Linked DNA regions of Homo sapiens: region 2 is reported to be linked to region 1. The links are microRNA targets in miRTarBase. Many come from high-throughput screens and were not tested one by one. Region 1 holds a microRNA gene; the other region holds the end of a gene's coding sequence.

The links. Region 1 holds the annotated microRNA hsa-miR-6729-5p (UGGGCGAGGGCGGCUGAGCGGC, at 1,370-1,391, shown strand). A microRNA usually pairs through its seed, bases 2 to 8, with sites in the 3' UTR of a target mRNA and lowers its output. Matches are read on the target gene's strand: a 7mer-m8 pairs with bases 2 to 8, a 7mer-A1 pairs with bases 2 to 7 and ends in A, and an 8mer does both.
Region 2: the mRNA of ZNF543 is a reported target of hsa-miR-6729-5p. Seed matches in the 3' UTR shown: 7mer-A1 at 3,525-3,531.

Annotation. Positions count from the first base shown.
Region 1 is chr1:12,027,794-12,032,181 of GRCh38, forward strand. MIR6729 (microRNA 6729) reads left to right here and starts at 1,365; the gene lies at 1,365-1,429. It overlaps MIIP (migration and invasion inhibitory protein), which reads left to right. Exons shown (of 10, transcript NM_021933.4): 5 at 1,240-1,348; 6 at 1,430-1,488; 7 at 1,972-2,101; 8 at 2,235-2,331; 9 at 3,473-3,610; 10 at 3,929-4,252. The coding sequence ends at 4,015.
Region 2 is chr19:57,328,693-57,333,080 of GRCh38, reverse strand. ZNF543 (zinc finger protein 543) reads right to left here. Exons shown (of 4, transcript NM_213598.4): 4 at 2,311-4,388. The coding sequence ends at 3,816. Among named protein-coding and RNA genes, the nearest start is that of ZNF543, 10 kb to the right of the region's middle.

The sequences.
Region 1 (4,388 bases):
GCTGTGCTCCTCCTGCAGTCTTTCCTGTCTCCATAAATGGCAACTCCAAATACTAAATAGGTCAGGCCATAAACTTGCTGGATTTACCATCCAGCTACATCCTGATACACCCAACATAAGTTGAAAATACTGTTTAGGCCGGGTGCGGTGGCTCACGCCTGTAATCCCAGCACTTTGGGAGGCCGAGGCAGGTGGATCAGGCCAGGAGTTTGAGAACAGCCTGGCCAAGATGGTGAAACCCCGTCTCTACTAAAAATACAAAAATTAGCTGGGTGTGGTGGCGCACGCCTGTAATTCCAGCTCTGTAGGTGGCTGAGACATGAGAATCGCTTGAACCTGGGAGGCAGAGGTTGCAGTGAGCCGAGGTCGCTCCACTGCACTGCACCCTGGGCAACACGGTGAGATTCTGTCTCAAAAAATAAAAAAAGAAACATCCTAAGTCGAATCATGGTAAGTTGGGGGCTGCCCCTACCTCTCCCCAGCTGAATCCTAACCGATGCCTCTGCTTCCCCTCAACTTGAAGCAGCCAGAGGAGGAGTTCTGTAAAAATATGTGGCTGATGTGGTTGTGTCCCTCCCATTCCCCAGACCCTCCCTGGGCTTCTTAACCTCATCTCCTCCACCCTCGCTGCCTTCCTGCCACTTTCCCCTCCTGGCTGTTCCTCAGCTGAACCATGCACATGCCCACCCCGGGGCCTTTGCGCTTGCTCTTTCATCTCCCTGCGATGTCCTTCCTGGGAGGTCTCTGTGGCTTCTCCATGTCTCTGCTCAGGGTCATCTCACTCGGAGAGGCCTTCCCTGGTATGGCTGCCCGGCCATACTAGGCTCTGACGCTGCTCTCTTGCTTTCTGGCAGGTATCAGCATTCAGTCTTGTATCACGGGTTTTTTTTTTTTTGGTGGCTAGTTCATCTCTTGCCACCTTACAGTGTAAGCCTCATTAAGGCCAGGGGCTTTGTCTGTCTAGTTCCTGGCACATGAAACAGCATCTAGCCCTGTCATAAGGGCTCTGTCGATATTTTTTCCATGGATGGTTGGCTATGCATCAGGGTAGACAGACACTGAAACCAACCAACAGTCCCAGTGACTGGAGGGGCCCTCCTGGCCTGTTTGAGGCACAGTAGGGATGAAGCAGGTGGCCTGGGGTGCCAGGGCTGATCGTCTCTCCAAGCCTTGGCCGGTGGCCACACAGCAGCCCCCAGCCCCTCTCCCGTCAGCTGCCTGGTGCTTTGCCCACACCAGGGTCTCTGGACACCAGCTCTTCCATCACCAGCCAGCCTGAGGCCTTCTTCTCCAAGCTGCAGGAGTTTCGGGAAACCAACAAGGAGGAGTGTATCTGCAGCCATCCTGAGTGAGCAGGGGCGGGCGAGGGTGGGCGAGGGCGGCTGAGCGGCTCCATCCCCCGGCCTGCTCATCCCCCTCGCCCTCTCAGACCCCAGTTGCCAGGCCTGCGTGAGAGCAGTGGCAGCGGCGTGGAGGAAGACCATGAATGTGAGTGCGGGCCCTCGGCTAGGCCGCTGAGTAGTCCAGCCTCGCGCTGCCCTGGCCTCCCCTGCCCCAGAGCAGTCCCATTTGAGGTTTGGGGCCTGGGGAGGCCCCTGAGATGTTGAGACTCATGGAGGGAGGCCTGCAGTCTGGACAGGGTGGCCAAGCCCTGGTAGGGGTGGAGTGAGCTAAGGCCTGGCCACCGAATTAGGGGCTGCCCTGTGTGGCACCATCCCACCCTCCCCAGCAGTGCCCCTGTGCTGGTGGGACTCCATCCCAGCTCCTGAGGGCCCCAGGAGGATGTCCCTCCCCACCCCTTAGGGCGTGGGCCCCAGGTTCTGGGAGGAAAGGGGTTAGGAGGAAATGGGCCGAAGGGCTTCCCAGAGGGATTGGCAGCTTGTGTGGTTGGGGGCCGCTGAGGGCAGCACGGAGCCTGGGGACCTGGGTTCCTGGCTCAGGGAGAGCTGTGGCTTCTCATGGGCCTCGCAGGCGTGTACTGTTACCGTGTCAACCGGCGCCTGTTCCCGGTGCCTGTGGATCCCGGTACCCCCTGCCGCCTGTGCAGGACACCGCGAGACCAGCAGGGCCCTGGGACCCTGGCGCAGCCAGCGCACGTCAGGTGAGTGACCAGAGTATTGGGACACCTTGGGGGACAGAGCCTGAACCACTGGTTTTAAGAAAAGATGGGCCTGGGCGTGGGCCCCCAACCGCTGGGAGGCTCCTCAGGGGTCCCCCACTGCCCCCCTGCGCAGGGTGAGCATCCCGCTGTCGATCCTGGAGCCCCCGCACCGGTACCACATCCACCGGCGAAAGAGCTTTGACGCCTCTGACACACTGGCCCTGCCCCGGGTGAGCAGCCACGTGGGGCTGGATGGTGATGAGGGCGGGGCTGGCTCAGACTGGCCCAGATCCCCAGGGAGGGTCACAGAGCGAGACTGGGCTCGACAAGGGTGAGCGCCCAAGTCTCTGGAGCACAGCCTGGGCCTCTTCCATCACCCACACCTGTACCTAAGGGAGGTAGGACCCCCGCTCCACGTACCCCGGTGCTTCCAGGGTGATCTGCCTGCAGGCTGGCATGACATGAATGGGTCCTGTTTATTGCGCTTTTGTGTACTGCAGGCACAGTCCTTAGGGGGCTTATCTCATGGAGCCCCCACAGCAGCCAGGAGTGTAGGCACTGCTGTACCCCCACCCTGCAGGTGGGGAGACCGAAGCAGAGGGGGAGGCGCCTTGGTGGAGGAGCTGGGATTCGAACCTAGGTCTCTGTGCTGCTGCTGCTGCTTTTTTTTTTTTTTTTTTTTTTTGAGACCGAGTTTTGTTCTTACTGCCCAGGCTGGAGTGCATTGGCATGGTCTCAGCTCACTGCAGCCTCCACTGTAGTCCCAGCTACTTGGGAGGCTGAGGTGGGAGGATCGCTTGAACCTGGGAGGCAGAGGCTGCAGTGAGCTGAGATCTCGCCACTGCACTGCAGCCTGGGTGACAGAGTGAGACTCCATCTCAAAAAAAAAAAAAATGTCCTTTCCTGTGTCTCCAGGTCGGGATGGGGTGCCAGTGGCAACTCCCCCTGACTCCTAAATTGAGAGTAGGGCAGCTGGGGTCAGAGGAGGAGAAGGATGCAGAGGAAAGTCAGTTTGCTGGTCCGTAAAATGGACATAACAGCGCCATCCTCAGGGATGTTGGTGGTGAGGTGGGGCTGTTGAGTGAAGCAATCCATGCAGGTGCTTGGAGAGCCTACAGCAGGAAGTACCCTGTGAATGTCACTGTCACCGTCCTATCCTCCTCCCATTTCAGCTCTCAGGGCCCCAGGGATGGCTGGATCTGCCAGGATAAGAAAGGGGAGAGCTGGGGTAGTCTTGTGGGTAGACACAGGCCCTGCCTTGGTGGGGGCCTCCTTCCTAATGGGGGGCACAGTTCCTCCCTGATGGGGGTGTGCCCAGTCAGCGGGGAGCTTGTCCCAGGTCAGGCACTTTTAACTCCTTGCCTTCCACAGCACTGCCTGCTGGGCTGGGACATTTTTCCTCCGAAGTCTGAGAAAAGCTCAGCCCCCAGGAACCTGGACCTCTGGTCCTCTGTCTCCGCTGAGGCCCAGCACCAGAAGCTGTCCGGCACCAGCAGCCCTTTTCACCCGGTACGGTCCAGATCGCATCCTAGCCTGGGGTGCCCCCTAGAGGGACAGAGACCTCGCAGCAGGCCTGGGGACTGCAGAGCCTCCTGGGGGGTAGGATTGAGGTGGGGAGGATGGAGCCTGGGAGTGTCTCTCTGCAGGGTCCAGCCCTCCAGCCCTGACCCTAGCCATCCCTCGGAACTCCTCTGCTCCCTGCCGCCTGCCCTGCTCCACCCAGGAAGGCCACCCTGACTGCAAGATCCAGGAGGGAATGTGGCTGGAACTGGGGATGACCTGTCCCTTTCAAGTGGCCCCCCTGAGACTTCCCTATTCCCCATCCAGGCCTCACCAATGCAGATGCTGCCCCCGACCCCGACCTGGTCAGTGCCCCAGGTCCCTCGGCCCCACGTCCCACGGCAGAAGCCCTGAGGACTGACTCCTGGGGGAGAACAGCATTCCCGCCGCCTCCAGCCTCTCCCCTCTGGCAGGCGCACCCAGGAGATGGAATCCCCTGCCCGCCCAGCTCAGGCCCAGCTGTCCTAGGTTGGGCAGGTGGGTGGACCCAAGCTTGTCTGCTGCCTGAGTTCCAGAGAGGGAGGACCCTGGGGTGGAGGGTGAGGGATTCTGTGGAAGTTTGTAAATAAAGCTCAGTGCTCTGCAGCTCAAGTCCCACGTGTGCTGGTTCCATCCTGCTAATGCACTTGAGGCCCAGAAGGCACTCTGGCCTCTCAGCCTGCCCTCCTGGCACCTGTGGAAGGAAGATACTGCAACCACTGGGACTAGGCAGTGTGTGTCCGTCACC
Region 2 (4,388 bases), not on the chromosome of region 1:
GCTCATGCCTATAATTCCAGCACTTTGGGAGGCTGAGGCAGGAGGCTCACTTGAGCTCAGGAGTTTGAGACCCGTCTGGCAACATGGTGAAACCTCATCTCTACAAAATACACAAATATTAGCTGGGCATAGTGGAGTGTGCTAGTAATCCCAGCTACTCGAGAGGCTGAGGGTAAAAATTCCTTGAACCCGAGAGGCAGAGGTTGCAGTGAGCCAAGATCGCACCACTGTACTCCAGCTTAGGTGACAGAACAAGAGTGTCAAAAAAAAAAAAAAAAAGTAGAAGTAAGATGTTTGATGTTTGCTAATAACATTAATATTTATGAAGAAAATCCTAAGAAAGCTATTAAAAAATGTTGCTGGAACTACTGACTTCAGCAAAGTCACAGAATACATATAAAAATTCTAATTTATATATTTCTCTATAATTGCAAGTATCAAGTGCAAACTGAAATTTAAAACTCAATACAACATATAATGGCCCTCTAAGAAACTGTCTAGATTTTTAAAATATGTCCATAATCTATAAGCTGAAAATTACAAAACCCTTATGAAATAAATCAACGAGGACCTCAATAAACAGAGGGACGTACCATATTCATGAACTGCAAGACTCAACAAGATGTCAATTCCCACCAAAACGATCTTTAGATTTAAGGCAATTTATATCAAAATCCCAGCAACATATTTCATAGAGACAAACATGCAATAAAATGTATATACAAAGCCAAAGGAAACAATTGATATGAAAGCCAAATCAATTTTTATTTTTTATTTATTTTTTGAGACAGGGTCTCACTCTGTCACCCAGGCTGGAGTGTAGTGGCACCATCTCAGCTCACTGCAACTTCCACCTCCCGGGTTCAAACAATTCTTCTGCCTCAGCCTCCCGAGTAGCTGGGACTACAGGCGCCTGCAACCTTGCCTGGCTAGGTTTTGTATTTTTTAAATAGAGACGAGTTTTCATCATATTGGCCAGGCAGGTCTTGAACTCCTGACCTCATGTAATCTGCCCACCTTGGCCTCCGAAAGTGTTGGGATTACAGGCGTGAGCCACCATGCCTGGCCCCAAATCAATTTTTAAAAAGAATAAAGAGTGAGGAATAAGTTTACCCTATTTTAAAATTTAGTAGATAGCAATAGTAATCAAAATAGAGTGGTATTGGCATAGGTTTAGGCTCGAAGACCAATGGAATAACATAGAGAACCAAGAAATAGACCAACATGAATATACTTAAATAATTTTTTGCTAAGGTGTAAAAGCAATTCAATAGAGGCAGAATAGTCTTTTCAAGAAATGGAGCTTAAAAAAATTCATGGGCAACAACAAAAGAAACTAAAGTTCATACTGTAATACAAAAATTAACTTAACATGAATCAGATCCAATGTAGAAGATAAAATTTGTAGGAGGAAATACGATAGAAAACCTGGTGAGGAGTTCTTAGACATGACATAAAAAGGACAAGGAGGGCCAGGCGTAGTGGCCACGCCTGTAATCCCAACACTTTGGAAGGTTGAGCCAGGCAGATCACAAGGTTAAGAGATGAAGACCATCCTGGCCAACATGGTGAAACCCCATCTCTACTAAAAATACAAAAATTAGCTGGGTGTGGTGGCACAAACCTGTAGTCCCAGCTACTTGGGAGGCTGAGGCAGGAAAATCACTTGAACCCGGAAGGTGGAGGCGGCTGCAGTGAGCCGAGATCTCACCACTGCACTCCAGCCTGGGCAACAGAGCGAGACTCCATCTCAATTAAAAAAAAAAAAGGACCAAGAGATGTCTTCAAAATAATGACATGAATTAATGCAGTACAAAATGGCTTTGCCTACAATAGAAAACTATACAAGTGTTCACTAAAAGGCTGTGAGCGCTGGGCGCAGTGGCTCACACCTGTAATCCCAGCACTTTGGGAGGCCGAGGCAGGTGGATCACCTGTCAGGAGTTCGAGATCAGCCTGACCAACATGCAGAAACCCCATCTCTATTAAAAATACAAAATTAGCTGGGCGTGGTGGCGCATGCCTGTAATCCCAGCTACTTGGGAGGCTGAAGAAGAATCGCTTGAACTCGGGAGGCAGAGGTTGCAGTGAGCCAAGACTGTGCCACTGAACTCCAGCCTGAGCAACAAGAGCAAAACTCTGTCTCCAAAAAAAAAAAAAAAAAAAAGGCTCTGAGGAGGGAAGTCCCACTTGGACACCCCTCTCTTCTCAGAAGAGAGCTAGTCTCTTTTCTCTTTCTTTTGCCTATTAAACCTCTGCTCCTAAACCAAGTAAGTAAATAAGTAAATAAATAAAAAAGGCTTTGAGGAGTTCAAAGTGAATACATGATTATTTTTACTTCTGTACAATATATTTAATATGAGGTAAAACTATCACATGGCTCAAAATCTAGTCTTAAAAATATAAAAAAGGAATTACAAAACGCTCTAAATGTGTAGCATTTTAATCAAGCCTAAGTCCATGGTGACAACTGTGAAAGTCACACATCCCTACATATATGCATGCCGGCTTGCCTGTTAAAATTCCAGTTAAAGTGAATTTTCACACACTCTTTAAAAAGATTAAAAATGACATTCCTTCTATGTTTGTTCTTCTGAGTTTATCATGATCTTTCAAAGGAATTCAGCTACATACTGTATTTTTGGGGGGGCCTTAATTTGACCTTTAGAAAACTGAGGTGGACCTAACTCAAAGGAGAGGTAAAGAAGCTGAGAAACCACAATCATAGGAAAAAACTAAGATTCCCAGGATTACTGTGGGCATGAACAATTACACTATCATCCCTATCCCAGGAAAACTTAAAAAAAAAAAAAAAAAGTAAATCCACATCAAGAAAAAGTATGTGTATTGGGTAAAGACACATGGTGAAACATTTTTTTAAACAAGCATCTGAAGTGGACAATGTGTCCAAACATATGTACATCCTTATCTCCTTATAAAAGTGTTTCATAACTCAAGCCTCCATATTTTTTATAAAGATGTATGCTTCTGCACCTCGAGAGTGGAGAACGTTGCAGGACTAAGCAAGTTTTCACAAAATGTTTTCAAGCCCTCGTTTGTATAACTGTTCTGACACTGGGCAGCAGTGAATGCATACACAGAAAAATAAAGGGGATGAGATCTTTCGTTTCTGAAACATTTCCCTCTCCCACATAAAATAACAAAGGGACGACAAAATTGCCATAGGCTTGTCAGACAAGTCTAAAAGAAGCTGTGGTTTCTTTCTCTTCCCTATATTTCCTCTTCCTTTGTTTAAATATCCCTGAGATGGCCGGGCGCGGTGGCTCACGCCTGTAATCCCAGCACTTTGGGAGGCTGAGGCGGGCGGATCACGAGGTCAGGAGATCGAGACCATCCCGGCTAAAACGGTGAAACCCCGTCTCTACTAAAAATACAAAAAATTAGCCAGGCGTAGTGGCGGGTGCCTGTAGTCCCAGCTACTTGGGAGGCTGAGGCAGGAGAATGGCGTGAACCCGGGAGGCGGAGCTTGCAGTGAGCCGAGATCCCGCCACTGCACTCCAGCCTGGGCGACAGAGCGAGACTCCGTCTCAAAAAAAAAAAAAAAATATCCCTGAGATAATATTTCACTGTAAACTAAGAAGAAAGATGTGGCTGAAAGTTTTCCTAAGTGCATAGCAACCACTGGGTCTCTCTCATGGGTGAATTCTCAGGTGGAGAATAAGACTCCAGGCTGGTTCAATTTCTAACTTGATTGTTTAGACGACAAATGATCATCTATTACACGTTTTCTCAAAGAGAGGATGCTTATGAAGTTTCTCTTCAGTGTGAATGGCCAGATGGTAAGATGTTCCCTTTCACCACAGATTTTCTTCAGTGGTGATATTCAAAAACTCTTTCCCTAATAAAAGTTCCTGGATGTTGACTGAAGTCTGTGCAGTCATAAAAGGTCTTCCCACATCTGTTACAATGGTAGGGTTTCTCCCAGTATGAATCCTTTGATGATGTGTGAGGGATGAGCCGCGATTAAAAGCCTTTCCACACTCACTGCATTCATACGGCTTCTCTCCAGTGTGAATGATGGAGTGTCGAATAAGGTTTGCGCTCCGGCAAAAGGCTTTCCCACACTGGATGCATTCATAGGGTTTCTCTCCAGTGTGAATCTGTTGGTGCCTCGTGAGGTGTGAGCTGCGGTTGAAGGCCTTTCCACACTCCACGCACTCATAGGGTTTCTCTCCAGTGTGGATGCTGAAGTGGCGAATGAGGTCTGCCCTATCACTAAAGGCTTTTCCACATTCTTTGCATTCATAGGGTTTTTCTCCTGTGTGGGTCCTTTTATGCAAGACAAAAGTGGAGCAGTGGGTGAAGGCCTTTCCACATTCACTGCATTCATAAGGCTTCTCCCCAGTGTGAATCCGTTGATGCTGCTT